4 linked regions of the Homo sapiens genome follow. The protein of the gene in region 4 purifies or fractionates together with the protein of the main gene of each other region. This does not show direct contact. Each region holds a gene or a part of one and is shown on either strand. Other genes may lie near its edges.

Region 1 (3,500 bases), on a different chromosome or scaffold from region 4:
GAGACTCTGTCTCAAAAAAAAAGAAAAAGAAAAAAACGGAGCTGGCATTTTAGTAAATAGCCGGGCCATAAACTTGACAAATAACTGTCTCACGTGCCCAGTGGTGGCAAGCGCTGTGGAGCAAATACATAGCAGGAGAGGGGGATCTGAAATGTTGGGGACAGGAATGACATTTTAGGGAGGGGGCAGTGAAGGCTTCCCTGAGCAGGTGACATTCGAAGTGAGGCCTGAAGGGAGGAAGGACTGGAGGGAGGGAGCCTTGAGGATATTTGAAGAAGGGTTGGTCCAGACCAGGGAAACAACAAATGCAGAGACCCTGAGGTGGGAGCTTGCCAGGCATGTTTAGGGAATATGGAGGACACATGTAGGCTGGAGGGAAGAGTAGAAGAAGTTCCTGGGTTCTAGGAGCAGAATGTTTGAGATTACTGGGGCTGGAGGTGGTTTGGCACTGTGACAGTTGACAGCCATAATCATGGCAATCAACATAGCCGAGTGATTGAGCCTCACTGTGCTGGCATTTTCCTCACCTGCTCTCCGTGCATCCCCACTACAACCGTGTGAGCTGTACCTTGATATTAACTGCATTCACAGAGGAGGAGGCTGCAACCCCTCCCAACCCCCACCCCAGGCATGCTCTTCCTAAAGCTCACCCTGATCGGGGTTAGGCCCGCATCTGCCCTCACCTGATGGGAAGGCCAGCAGGACAGGGACTGAACCTATTTGGTTTGATTAAAGTGCTTGGCCCCTCATGAGCACCCAGTCCACTTTTGTTGGAACATTTCCTGAGGCTTAGAAAATGGGAGAGGCTGCCTGAGGTCATACGGCGGGGCACCGGGCAGCAGTAGGGCTAGGCCTGGAACCCGGGACTGGGCCGGGTGGGGGTGCGCTAGGTTCTGTGTTCTTACTCTTCACTATGGAAGTCAGCCAGCCAGGGGTGAGTGTGTGGGAGGTGGGGGCGAGTATTCCGGATCATCAGAACAGCATGTGTGCAGGGCAGGTGGCAGAGAATGGGCCTCTGTGTGTAGGGAGCTGTGAGTAGTTGGACCAGAGCAGCATGGGGCTGAGGGAATGGTGACAGGTGCAGCAGGGAGGCGGCCACAGCCTGATTTCGCAGGCCCCAAGTGTCTGGCCCAGAGGTTGAGCCCTGGTCCTGCAGGACCCAGGAGCCGTTCTGTCCTGTTCTGGGCTGAGTTTCCCAGCAGCAGCCCACCTCATGCCAGATGTCAGGGTTTGTGAAGGGCCTGGCCAGCTTGGCAGGCCAGAGGGTGAGGCGGGTGTCCAGCTTCCCAGGAGGTCCCAGCTGAAATCTGGCCATGTGTGTGCTACTTCTCAGGTGCCCCAGGCTTCATGGGTGCAGCCTCACGGTCCTTGATCCACCTGTACCCCACCCAGGCCAACTGTGGGTGCCCCCTGCCCTGGGGATTACAGAGGCTCTTGGCACAGGGGGAAGGGAAAGGTGGAGGGTGTCAGGAGTACTGGGTGAGAGTCCTGGCCTGTACTCCCAAAGCTGAACCCAGGGGTTCAGTCCCCCAGATGGGCTTTCTGTTTTTTGCTCCTTTTGTCTCTGTTTCTCATCTTTGTTTCTTTCGGTTTTTTTGTTTGTTTGTTTTTGAGACAAGGTTTTGCTCTGTTACCTAGGCTGGAGTGTGATGGAGCGATTGCAGCTCACTGCAACCCAAAACTTCTGAGCTCAAATGATCCTCCCGCCTCAGCCTCCAAAGTGCCGAGATTGCAGGTGTGAGCCACCACGCCCAGCTAATTTTTATTTTTATTTTTGTAGAGGCAGGATCTAGTTATGTTGCCCAGGCTGGTCTCCAACTCCTGACCTCAAGTGATCCTCCTACCTTTGCCTCCTAAAGTGCTGGGATTACAGGCATGAGCCGCGGCACTCAGCCTGTTTCTCATCTTCCCATGGCTCTGATTCCTTATTTGTCTCTCATCTCTTATTTGTCCCTCTGTCCATCTCTCATCCCCACCTTCTCTCTACCTCTTGTCCCCCATCTCCCTGAGGCTGAGGGTCTGCTGGAGGCCAGGGGTCCTCAGAAGTCCAGCTTATTTGGGGCTTGTCTCTGCCTGGAACCAGAAGAGTTGGGCCCACCAAGCCTTTGACTGCAGCCTGTCCCCTGGAAAGCAGGATGACAAAGGCATGACCCCAGGCCTCCCCTGCTCTTCCTAGCTCCCCATACCTACCACACGAGGCCAGCCCCTTCCTCAGGCCAATAAGTGGCTACTGCTTTTGGCTCAGATCTTCAAACCCTGCCAAGCCAGGGGCTGGCTCTGATAGCAGGACCTCAGCACTACAGCCAGAAGACAGCCCGGGCCTCCTGTGTCCTGAGCAGCCACCCTCCCTGTCCCCACCTCAGTCTGCTCATCTGTTAAGTGATACAGTTTAGGCCAGTTGACCCCACAGGCCCTGCCAGGCTGATGATCCATGCTGTGACTTTGGTGACCCTCAAGTGACTTTGGACAAGTGCCTTGACCTCTCCAGGCCCAGCTTCTCTCTCTGAAGGATGGGACAGAGGGTCCCTAGCTCCAGGAGGTGGTGAGGGGTGCTGAGATCATCTTAGCCCTGTATCTGGCATGTTCCAGTTGCTCAGTGAAAGCTACTTAAGTTGTGTATGTTTTCTCCCCCTGGAGACGGAGTCTTGCTCTGTCGCCCAGGCTGGAGTACAGTGGCACGATCTCGGCTCACTGCAACCTCTGCCTCCTGGGTTCACGTGATTCTCCTGCCTCAGCCTCCCGAGTAGCTAGGAGATTACAGGTGCACCCTCCCGAGTAGCTAGGAGATTACAGGTGCACACCACCACACCTGGCTAATTTTTGTATTCTTAGAGACGGGGTTTCACCATGTTCATGTTAGCCAGGCTGATCTCGAACTCTTGACCTCGTGATCTGCCCACCTCGGCCTCCCAAAATGCTGGGATTACAGGCATGAGCCACCACACCCGGCCATTGTGTATGCATTCTTTATGGATGAGAATTAAGGTATTTGGTCTGCAGAAGGATCCAGCTTCCAGAGGCCAAAGAGAGATGGAGTTTAGATGGAAAAATATTCAGATTTGGAGGACGTTCTCCATGGCGTGGGGAGAGAGCTGGATCATCTTTGGTTTCAGGACTGCCCCGAACGTCCAGGCTAACATGTCTCATTGATGTGTCTGGGATCCAAACCCAGCTCTGAACCTCAGTTTCCTTGTCTAGGAAATGAGATCACTCAGTTCCTTCCTTGACGGGCTGATACTTGAATGAGAGACTGTGCCTCAGACTCAAAAACTCAGATGACTGCAGGGGCCCAGCCAGGGCTGCCACCAAATCTGGCCACCCAGTGTGAGACCCCAGGGAAGGGAGAGGACCAGGGTGAACCTGGAGCTCATATCCCATTGGATGGGGGCAGCTATTACTTATTGTTTAGGCCTAGGGTGGCCAGAGCCCTGTGTTGTTGAGGGAAGCAGGAAACTAGGAATTTTACGTGATTTTCAAATTTAGCTCACTTTTTAAAACTG
Region 2 (4,262 bases), on a different chromosome or scaffold from region 4:
CCCCTGACCACATTCAAAACCACCAAGATCTGTGATCAGCATCATATAATCAATTTCTATTTGTTCCTGCAATACACAAGAAATGTCTAGAAGATGATCACCACATTTGGAGGCTGTATTTGCATGCTCTGACTTAAAACGTTGCTATGTGAGATAGAAAAACATTACTGGCAATGGGGGAGAGGATACCATTCAAAGAAATAGGCAGTGTCCTTCAGGGCAGCGGAAAGGGCTGTGGAGGCCCCAGGACCACATCAGAAGACTGATCAAGTGGGAAGAGACATTGGGCCCCACTCTATCTAGTTTACAGTCCTTTAGGACAAACTTGGGGTCACCTATTTGGGGGTACCTCTGTTCAGCAGCCTATCCTGTCCTTATCCATCATCCCTGTGCCCAGGAGCTGGCCCTCCTCCATGAATGATCTCCTGGGGACAACAATGAGACAACTGACTCCACTTTGGTGCCTACCTCTGGCGCAGTCCAGGGGAATTTAAATTCCCTACTGCTATTAACCTACGCAGACACTGCAGGCAAAAATGTACCCTGGGCCATGTTCCTATGTACCTCTGTTAAAATTCAGGGTCTATCTGCCCCTCTGCTGTCTGAGCTGAGGCTGGTCAGAGGCATTTCAGAACATGCTCTCAGCTGGTTTTGCAAAGCTGAGATTCAATTCTCCTGAGTTACTCCTGGAAGGACATACAGGCACCACAGCACGGCACAGTTCCACTTGCTTTTAAATCACATTGAGTTTACAAATTCAGAAACGGCTCAGTCTGGCACCAGATGAGGAATGAGAATAAAAAATTAACTTGGCCACATTCTTCCTTGTCAGTAATACTGGGCTCTTCTATGACATGGGCTTTTTCATCATGAGTAGGCGTGTAGATATTCTTAGCTGGACACCAAGCTAAGGGAAAATGACAGTCACTCTCCAACATTTGTAAGTACTTAGAAGTTTACTTCCTGTCATATTTATTCGTGACTCTTCCAAAGGAGTGCTGCCTGCTTTTTCATCCCCCAAATCTGGGCGCAAACACTGCACACAAGTCTTTATAAATACGCCTATTTTCCCACTGAAAATGTTTCAGCTCTAGGAATACATTTTAAAACCTATATTTTCCCCTCCCCAGTTTACCACACCCTTGTTTTTCCTGGCAAAGCCATCAGAATTTGAAGTCCAGTAGAGAATTTCCTTTTGATTCCATCAGAATAAAGAAACACTGGCAGCATCCTTCAGTCATTTCACTTTTCCCTCACATTAAAGTGGGTTTATGACCATGAACACTTCGTATTAATAAATGTCTCAGCACACCCAAGCCTGAAAATCTGATCTAAACCTCCTTAACTTGAATTCCATCCACAATCCACAACTTCCTCGGAAAAAATCTCTCCCAGCTTCTCCTTCCTCTAGCCCAAGAAACAGCCTTAACAGCGAGCGATTTCATTCCTACACTCTTTGCTCAGCTTGACTTTGCTCCTCACGGCAAAAGTTGAGTTTGAAACGCCAAAGAGTCACAGTGCAAATTCTAATGGCACCAAACAGGCTTCGGTTAAACACATTTCTAAGAAAAAGAAGACCAAGTTTCTGAACCCTACAGAAGATTCAGGCGTTTGTGACTAAGTGTGGGTCATCCCTGAGCTTTTTCTGGAACAGATTCAGCGTTTCTACCTTCACAAATGACTGTCCCTCTAGCAGTCTGGACAGTGTCTAGATCTGAGACCTAAACATGCCCTGTTATGTGGCCAAGACTTACTGGAGCTCATTTAAACTTATCGTCCCTTAGTTTTTTGGTGGAAAACAGGGCCACCATGCTCACCCTTAAAACATACGCTGGGCATTGTGCTCACTTGGAAAACATCTTAGGGTGATGGATGGGTTTCCCTCCTTATCTTGGAAGACACCTTTTCTTCCTTGTTACCTGGCTTGGCAATTTTACTTTCCCCATACATCTCATCACAAGTATTCATGTTAGTATATATCATTTGCTCAGTCCCTTCACGGGCAGGCACGGGGTGGCGTTATTACCCCCGTTTTACACAGTGGAAACTGAGGCTCTAAGAAGTTAATTGACCCACCGCCATACAGGTAGTAAGTAGCAGAGCTGGATTAAAACCCAGGCTTGTCTGGTTTAAAATTGCTTGTTGTTTCCACTTTGGTCAGCCTCGCTTACGACAGCTCCGGGAGAAGTCTCTGGAGTCCGTGCGAGCCGGCGGATCAGGTCTAGATGGAGGTTCTTTAACGACCCACCTCTCGGCGATCTCTTAACCAACTCCCCCAGCGGAGCCCCCACCCCCCGAACTTCGGCTCTGGGGCTCCCCTCCCACCCACTGCCATTCCTGCCTTTTCTTTTCCAGCCCCTACCAGCTGGGGCGGCCTCACGCCGGCAGGTGCCCACCGGGCCGGGGCGCCTCGGGGCGCCGGGAGGGGAAGAGGGTCCGCGGCCAGGCCCGCACCTACCTCGTCCCCGAAGCGCACCACCTTCTGGCCCGTGGGCCCGCGCAAGCCGGGGAAGCGCGTGAGCTCCTCCGAGTCCCCGGGGTCTCGGGGCGCCGGGGCGCGCGGCCCCACCAGGCACCGGTCGATGATCTCGTCCTGCTGCGCGGGCGGCAGCCGCGCCCACTCGGGCCCGTACTTCTCGCGGATCTTCTCCTTGTCCTGCATGATCTTCCTGGCCATGGGGCTCAGCGACGAGAAGTAAGTGAAGCGCTTTCGCTCCCGGTCGTCCAGAGGCCGGTTCCCGCTCATGACCGCCGAGCGCGAAGCCGCGATCGCCGCCGCCATGGACGCCATGCCCGGCCTGCCCGCCGCTCCCGGCCCGCGCCCCGCCCCTCGCTGTGCCCGCCCTCGCCCCGCCCCGCGCCACCCGGAGCCCCGCCCCCTCCGGGAACCCCGCCCTGCACCGCCGCGTACCCGGGTCTCCAAGCCAACCCAGCTCCCCAAGCCCCGGGACCCCGGCCCTCCGTGGCCCCCTCCCCGGGAGCTCCTCCCTCCGGGCCCCCCCCCGCCACCCCCTCGCGGACCCCACGAGTCCCCCTTTACGCCTCCATAGTGGATTACCGCGGTGCCCGCAGGTTTCGGGCTCCCCTTACCCGGCTCAGGTGGTAGCCGGCGTGTCCCTGAGTCCGCGCCCGGCGCTCTGAGAGGGTGGCCGTGGTTAATTCCCGGTAGTGACCGCCATAGCGCCACGTGGCCACTGCTTGACAAAGGAAACTTTTTTCAACCTCCAGTGAGCCTAAGAAAGCCCCAGCATTTCAGGCCAAGCCGCTGGCTGCCTGGCTTCTGTTTTTACTCCTTTCCTTCTGTCCCTTTCTGGGACGAGCCACACCTTCTCTGCTTTCTCTGGGCCCGTCCAGGACGCTGGGCCCGGGGCCTGGCGCGGTGAGCTGCAGATAGCCGGGGGCGCAGGGCAGCCCGGAGGCTGGAGGGCGACCTGGAAGGCTGGACCGGTTCGGGGCATCTGGTGCTCAAGGAAAGTCAGCTCCCGCCGCCCCTCGGGGCCAGGTGGGTGCATGAAGTACCCGGTGGCCCAGGTGCCTTTCCCCAACCCAAGGAGCTCAGAACTCTTGGCAGTTCGACGTTTGCAAACAAACCAAAGAGGAGCAGAAAGTTTTCAGACTCAGAGGCGACATCCCAACAGGTAGGGGGCCAGGGTTTGTAATTTTGAGGTGTGTCCCAGACAGACCACAAAATTAAAATTATAGCGAGCCCCCACTTCCCCCAAGCCCCTCTCTCCATCTGACTGATTTTAACAAGACTAACAGGACTCAGGTGAGAATTGTGTCCACTCGTAAAATAAAAAAACAAAAACAAAAACCAGCATTTCAGCTGTTATCCAGGGTCTTTGCCTGGATAGTTCTGAACACAAAAGTAGAAATAACTTGCAAAGTCCTATTTTAAATGTGAGATGGCCTCATCTTCCGGCCCAGAAATCCTCAGAATATTTTTGGAATGTCATGAATGTGGCAGGCTCTACAGTTAAAGACATTATTATCAACAATGTTCACAACATAATATATTGAAGCAGGGAAAGGCAAGCACCACCAAATATAGTCTCCACAGTAAGTGGCGGATTATTTATGAGACCGGAAGTTTAAGGACAGTTTTTTGGAGTATGATCTTCTGTTTGAGTTGATGCTAGAGAAGCTCAATACATTGACCTGAATCCCACTGATTTCTCTCCTCTAATCCTTGTTTAATAATATAGGTAATGTTTAAAGATATATTCTTGAAATTAATTAACATCCCCAGGCTTGCTTTGATA
Region 3 (3,500 bases), 4.4 Mb from region 4:
TTAGATGACTTCTCCCTCACCACCCTAAAAGCTCTTCCACAGACAGGGCCCTTGTCTTAGAGCTCTGTGAACACACTCATGACACAGTGAGTGCTTATAAATACCACAACCACAGATGCCCTGCAGAAGGTCAAGGAGCCCGGCTACAAGGAACTAAAGAAGTGTGGCATACAAGAAAATTAACCAGGTGTGGTGGCGCATGCCTCTGGTCCCAGCTACTTGGGAGGCTGAGGCAGGAGAATTGCTTGAGCCCCAGAGGCAAAGGTTGCAGTGAGCAGAGATCGTGTCACTCACTGCACTCCAGCTTGGGCTACAGAGTGAGACTCCTTCTCAAAAAAAAAAAAAAAAAAAAGAAGATATGTGGCAGGGACAGGGCGGGGGTTTTAAAGGAACTCTAGATACCTCTTTGGTAAGTCCCACAAATGCCCACAGAATTAAAGCTCCCAATCAGAAACCATCTCAATCTCTCCAGGGGGAAAGCAGAAATACTCACCAGGCCTCAATTCACCAAGGGCCTAGACTTGAATATTTCATGATAAAAATAAATACTGCAAATATAACTCTAAAGCTCACTTCCCCAATGTTGTCCTTAGAGAATTAAAAAACTAAACCAAAAGATTCATTTCTACCTCTTCCCCCAACTCTTTTAAAACAGTATTGAAAGGGTTTTCTTGGCCAGGCGCAGTGGCTCACGCCTGTAATCTCAATATTTTGGGAAGCTGGGGCAGCTGGACCACTTGAGGTCAGGAGTTGGAGACCAGCTTTGCCAACAGGGTGAGACCCTGTCTCTACTAAAACAAAAAATACAAAAATTAGCTGGGCATGGTGGTGCGTGCCTGTGATCCCAGCTACTTGGGAGGCTGGGGCAAAAGAACTGCTTGAACCCAGGAGGTGGAGGTTGCAGTGAGATCATGCCACTGCATCCAGACTGAGCAACAGAGCGAGACTCTATCTTGAAAAAAAGGTTTCCTTGAACAACTACCACTTACCTGCTATCTGGGGAGATGATGGGAGGAACAAGCAATTTTCACAACTGGTTTGGTTTTTTTTTTGAGACAGAGTCTCGCTCTGTTGCCCAGGCTGGAGTGCAGCAGCGTGATCTCGGCTCACTGCATCCTCTGCTTCCTGAGTTCAAGCGATTCTTCTGCCTCAGCCTCCCAAGTAGCTGGGACTACAGGCGCACACCACCATGCCCGGCTCATATCTGTATTTTTAGTAGAGACGGGGTTTCACTACATTGGCCACACTGTTCTCAAACTCCTGACCTCGTGATCCACCCATCTCGGCCTCCCAAAGTGCTGGGATTACAGGCGTGAGCCACTGTGCCCGGCCACAACTGGTCTTTTTTAAACGTATGAGCTAAGGATAAAGGCTGGGGTGATGGATGCCGCGGGCCATCTGCAGGGGCTGGAGACAGAAATGAATATTCACCAAGTGCCTCTACCCTGCACTGGATTTGCCCCAAGTACTTTATCCACACAATCCCACGACTACCCTGTGAGGCAGAAGGCATTGTGCCCATTTAATGGATGAGGAAACTGAAGCTCTGGAATGCTAACTGTTTTGCCCAGGGTCACGCAGCAAGGTGGAATTCCAGGCCTGGCTCCAAAGCTGGTGCCCCTTCCTCTGGCCCAGGTGCTGCAGAATAAAACTAAAGAGGTCGGGTGCGGTGGCTCACGCCTGTAATCCCAGCACTTTGGGAGGCCGAGGCAGGTGGATCACAAGGTCAGGAGATTGAGACCATCCTGGCTAACACCGTGAAACCCCATCTCTACTAAAAAAAAAAATACAAAAAATTAGCTGGGCGTGGTGGCGGGTGCCTGTAGTCCCAGCTACGCAGGAGGCTGAGGCAGGAGAATGGCGTGAACCCGGGAGGCGGAGCTTGAACTGAGTGGAGATCGCGCCACTGCACTCCAGCCTGGGAGACAGAGCCAGACTCCGTCTCAAAAAAATAAATAAATAAATAAATAAATAAATAAATAAATAATATGGAAACCATTCTCCCTACCTTTAATTTACTTGGGAGGCTGAGGCAGGAGACTCGCTTGAACCTGATTCTCCTGCCTCAGTCTCCCAAGTAAATGGGATTACAGGTACACGCCACCATGCCCAGTTAATTTTTTGTATTTTAGTAGAGACAGAGTTTCACCATGTTGGCCAGGCTGGTCTTGAACTCCTGACCCCAAGTGATCCACCCACCTCGGCCTCCCAAAGTCCTGGGATTACAGCCGTGAGCTACCATGCCTGGCCCATTCTCCCTACCTTTCAAGACTTCCAAAATGAAGATATTCTACAAGGGGAAAATCTGTCCCTACTCTCAATCTTAGAAATGGCCTATTCCTAAAATAATATCAGAAACTATTTGCAGTGTGTGTGTTTTTTTGTTTTTTTGTTTTGTTTTGTTTTTGAGACAGAGTCTCGCTCTGTTGCCCAAGCTGGAGTACAGTGGCGCAATCTCGGCTCATTGCAAGCTCTGCCTCCCAGGTTCAAGCGATTCTCGTACCTCAGCCTCCCGAGTAGCTGGGTCTACAGGCGACCACCCACACACCCAGCTAATTTTTTTCTATTTTTAGTAGAGATGGAGTTTCACCATGTTGGTCAGGCTGGTCTCAAACTCCTGACCTCAGGTGATCTGCCTGCCTTGGCCTCCCAAAATGCTGGGATTACAGGTGTGAGCCACTGCGTCTGGCCTTTTTTTTTTTTTTTTTTAAGACAGAGTTTCATTCTTGTTGCCCAGGCTGGAGTGCAATGGCACAATCTTAACTCAGTACAACCTCCGCCTCCCAGGTTCAAACGATTCTCCTGTCTTAGCCCACAAAGTAACTGAGATTACAGGCATGCGCCACCACACCTGACTAATTTTGTATTTTAAGTACAGACGGGGTTTCACCATGTTGGTCAGGCTGGTCTTGAGCTCCTGACCTCAGGTGATCCACCTGCCTTGGGCTCCCAAAGTGCTGGGATTACAGGCATGAGGCACCACACCCGGCTCACAATGCTTTATAACACATCAAACAGAGTCAAAACAACTTTTCAAATATTAGGCCTTCAGAACCCTTCTTAACTGAAGGGTAGTTATTAATTACACTGTTTTGCAGATGTGTAACTAACTGCAGGACCACAGAGAGTTGAGACTTTGCCCGAAGCTACCCAGTAAGCCAGTGGCAGAAGTCTCCTAAGGCTCCTGAGGGTCCATCTGCTGCTTTTTTTTTTTTTTTTGAGACAGAGTTTCACCCTGTTGCCCAGGCTGGAGTGCAGTGGCGCGATCTCGGCTCACTGCAACCTCCACCTCCTGGGTTCAGCTGATTCTCCTGCCTCAGCCTCCTGAGTAGCTGGGATCACAGGCATGCGCCACCACGACTGGCTAATTTTTTTTTTGTATTTTTAGTAAAGATGGGGTTTCACCATATTGGCCAGGCTGGTCTCGAACTCCTGAGCTTGTGATCCACCCACCTCAGCCTCCCAAAGTGCTGGGATTACAGGCGTGAGCCACCACGTCC
Region 4 (3,500 bases):
GGTCATCTAATGTCTCTGAACTGCAGCTTCTGCCTATGTAGAATGGGAGCAGTAACACAGAGCATAAAGACATGATAGGGGCAAGGAGAGCAAGTGTGTAAAGCACTCAGCTCCGGGTTTTCATGCACAAGTGTGCTGCACACTTGTGCCTGACACTTATTCAGTCGCACTAGCTCATCTATAGAATGGGAGGTGATACACGCCTAGCAGGCTTGTTGTCAAAACAAACTAAGCTCACTGCAGCTGGATCAGTGATGAATGTCACTGTCGTCATCATTCCCACTCCACAGCCTGAGGCCTGGCCAAGTGCTCCTGTGATGTGCCACACCAGTCCAGCAGGCAGGGGAAACATGCTTTGCTTGGTGGGATTCAAGGTGTAGGGATGGCCCTCCCTTTACAGTCACCACCCTGGGTTGAGAGTTTGTTCCTCCTCCTTGCTCTGGGCTGGTCTCTATGTGATATCTGACCAAGCCCGGTAACTGTGTCTGTTAGGTGGGATGCATGACCCATTCCAGCCTCTCCACAGACTCGGGAGTGCTGTCTCTATGCCAGGGTCTGAGAATAGATACCGATACATGGGTCAGCAGCTCCTGTGGGGGTGTCACTCCACTGCGGAGGGAAACCAAGGCAGAAGCTGGACAAGAGTCTGAATGGCTCAGATTTGAATCATTCGTTTTTGGGGGGTTTTTTGTTTGTGTTTGTTTCTGTTGTTGTTGTTGTTATTGTTTTGAGACGGAGTTTTGCTCTTGTTTCCCAGCTGGAGTACAGTGGCGCAATCTCGGCTCACCACAACCTCCGCCTCCCGGGTTCAAGTGATTCTCCTGCCTTAGCCTCCCGAGTAGCTGGGATTACAGGCATGTGCCACCACGCCCGGCTAATGTTTGTATTATTAGTAGAGACGGGGTTTCTCCATGTTGGTCAGGCTGGTCTCGAACTCCCAACCTCAGGTAATCTGCCCCCCTCGGCCTCCCAAAGTGCTGGGATTACAGGCGTGAGCCACCGTGCCCAGCCCAAGCGTTAGTTGTGAAGGTTTATTTTGTTGCAAATCCCAGTCCTGCATGAAAATGGGAATGTTAGTAACCCCTGCCTCAAGGTGGGGCAGTGAAAACAAAAAACACCCTGGGAGTCTGCAGAGGTGTGGGCCTTTCCCATCCCATTCTTTCTGCTACAATCAAAATGATCGTTTAAAAATGGAAATCTAGGTTGGGCAAGGTAACTCCTACCTATAATCCTCACACTTTGGAAGGCTGAGGTGGGAGGATCCCTTGAGCCCAGGAGTTCAAGACCATCCTGGACATGATGGCAAGCCCCTTCTCAATAAAAAAAATTAAAAGTAACAGTAAAAAAGTAAACGCAGAAGCCTGAGTTCCCCCTGCAGTCAGGTCAAAGCCCCCAAGTCTTACTCCAGGCCTGCTAAGGCGTTCCCATCCCCTTCAGCTTCCCCTTTGGGCCTCTGGCTTCTCACTGTCTGGGCTTTCGTGACAATGACCTTTAACCCCTCCGGGCAACAGGTGGTTCCCTCGCCTTTCAGATTCCCTCTGCCTGGGATGCTCTAGGCCTCCATCCACCCAGACCCCTTTATGTGACTGAATCCTACTCATCCTTCGGGGCATTCTCAGAGAAACTTCCTCCACCCACTGAGCCCCCAGCCAGTGTGGCGTGAAGGTGGGAAGCATAGACTTGCCTGGGTTTACTCCTCCCTGCCCTCTGCTAGCTTGCACAAGCTAGTCTTTGTACTTCATTCTCTTCATCTTTACAAAAGAGAGGATAATAATTTCTTTCCCAGAGAATTTTGGGGTGGATTCAAGGAGAAAGTATAGCTGACCGTCTCCAAACAGTGCCTGGCAGAAAGTAAGCATTCAATAACATCAGCTATTGGCCAGGCAAGGTGGCTTACTCCTATATTCCCAGCACTTTGGGAAGCTGAGGCAGAAGGATTACTTGAGGCCAGGAATTCAAGACCATCCTGAGCCACATACTGAGACCCCATGTCTATAAAAACCAAATTAGGCCAGGCGTGGTGGTTCACACCTGTAATCCCAGCACTTTGGGAGGCCAAGGCAGGTGGATCATCTGAGGTCAGGAGTTCGAGACCACCCTGGCCAATATGGTGAAACCCCGTCTCTACTAAAAATACAAAAATTAGCCAGGTGTGATGGGTGCCTGTAATCCCAGCTACTCAGGAGGCTGAGGCAGGAGAATCACTTGAACCCAGGAGGTGGAGGTTGCAGTAAGCCAAGATCATGCCACTGCACTCCAGCCTGGGCAACAAGAGCAAAACTCCATCTCAAAAAAAAAAAAAAGAACAAAAAAAGGAAATTAGCTGAGCATGGTGGCATGTGCCTGTAGTAGTCCCAGCCCCTCGGGGGGAAGCTGAGGCAGGAGGATTGCTTGAGCCCAGGAGGTTGAGGCTGCAGTGAGCCTTGATCATGCCACTGCACTTCAGCCTGGGCAACAGAATGAGACCCTGTCTCAGTAATAATAATATCAGCTATTGCTGTTACTGGCGTTATTTTTTTTTTACATGCCCCAGGCCACCCAGTAGGGCACTTTTGGAACACCCATTATGCTTGTAATTATTCAGTTGCCTGTCTGCCCTGCCAGATTAAAGCTCCTTGCCTGCAGGTACTGCACGTTCTAGCTAGGCAGGGGTCTTGTTTATTGCTTTGCTGTCCCTAGGGTGCATAGTCAGGAAACCTTGGGGCCCAGTTCTTAGGTTCAAAGTTCAGTCAGCAATTTGCTAGATGTGTTAGCCTCAGGTGGTACTTAACCTCAGCATCACCGTGTATAAAATGGGGGCTCCTCTAAACAGTGCTCAGGTTTTATGGTTGTGAGAATTAAATGAGATGGTGGATATAAAGGATTTAGCACCATGCTTGCATGGGATGCTCTCAATATCTCGAGCACCACAAATACGAGGTACCATTCATAGCATCCTTCTATTTGTCCCCTCCTCCCTGCTCCCCTGCTGTAGGCATTGAACCTGGCCACATCCCAGGTACCGTGAACATCCCCTTCACAGACTTCCTGAGCCAGGAGGGGCTGGAGAAGAGCCCTGAGGAGATCCGCCATCTGTTCCAGGAGAAGAAAGTGGACCTGTCTAAGCCACTGGTGGCCACGTGTGGCTCTGGCGTCACAGCCTGCCACGTGGCACTAGGGGCCTACCTCTGCGGCAAGCCAGACGTGCCCATCTACGATGGCTCCTGGGTGGAGTGGTACATGCGCGCCCGGCCCGAGGATGTCATCTCAGAGGGCCGGGGGAAGACCCACTGAAGCTGGGCAGGACACAGGCGAGCTCAGGTGATGCCGGCCACCAGCAATGCCTGGCCTGGTAGCTCCGCTTCTGCTTTCACCAAGAGAGTGTTTCTTCACTCAACTCAGGTGGCATTTGGGGTGACATCTCAAAGGCCAGGAATTCCGTTGACTTGTTGGCTGCCAGTAGGGGCGGGAGGAAAGGCGGAGGCGAGCCCTGGAGGAGGGAGGCCACAACTCCGAGCTGC

Evidence for each region.
Region 1: the proteins of MPST (region 4) and PEDS1 fractionate together in Homo sapiens (co-fractionation; one large-scale study listed by BioGRID). This does not show direct contact.
Region 2: the proteins of MPST (region 4) and C1orf198 fractionate together in Homo sapiens (co-fractionation; one large-scale study listed by BioGRID). This does not show direct contact.
Region 3: the proteins of MPST (region 4) and ACO2 fractionate together in Homo sapiens (co-fractionation; one large-scale study listed by BioGRID). This does not show direct contact.

The regions. Positions count from the first base shown.
Region 1 is NC_000020.11:50,147,224-50,150,723, reverse strand, and holds part of PEDS1 (plasmanylethanolamine desaturase 1), read left to right. Parts: intron 1-3,500. UniProt on the Homo sapiens protein: Plasmanylethanolamine desaturase involved in plasmalogen biogenesis in the endoplasmic reticulum membrane.
Region 2 is NC_000001.11:230,865,722-230,869,983, forward strand, and holds the start of C1orf198 (uncharacterized protein C1orf198), read right to left. Parts: upstream 2,801-4,262; 5' UTR 2,792-2,800; coding exon 2,459-2,791; exon of another isoform or gene 2,083-2,458; coding exon of another isoform or gene 2,077-2,082; intron 1-2,076.
Region 3 is NC_000022.11:41,475,617-41,479,116, reverse strand, and holds part of ACO2 (aconitate hydratase, mitochondrial precursor), read right to left. Parts: intron 1-3,500. UniProt on the Homo sapiens protein: Catalyzes the isomerization of citrate to isocitrate via cis-aconitate.
Region 4 is NC_000022.11:37,026,242-37,029,741, forward strand, and holds part of MPST (3-mercaptopyruvate sulfurtransferase), read left to right. Parts: intron 1-757; coding exon of another isoform or gene 758-816; exon of another isoform or gene 817-858; intron 859-2,974; coding exon 2,975-3,273; 3' UTR 3,274-3,500. UniProt on the Homo sapiens protein: Transfer of a sulfur ion to cyanide or to other thiol compounds. Also has weak rhodanese activity. Detoxifies cyanide and is required for thiosulfate biosynthesis. Acts as an antioxidant.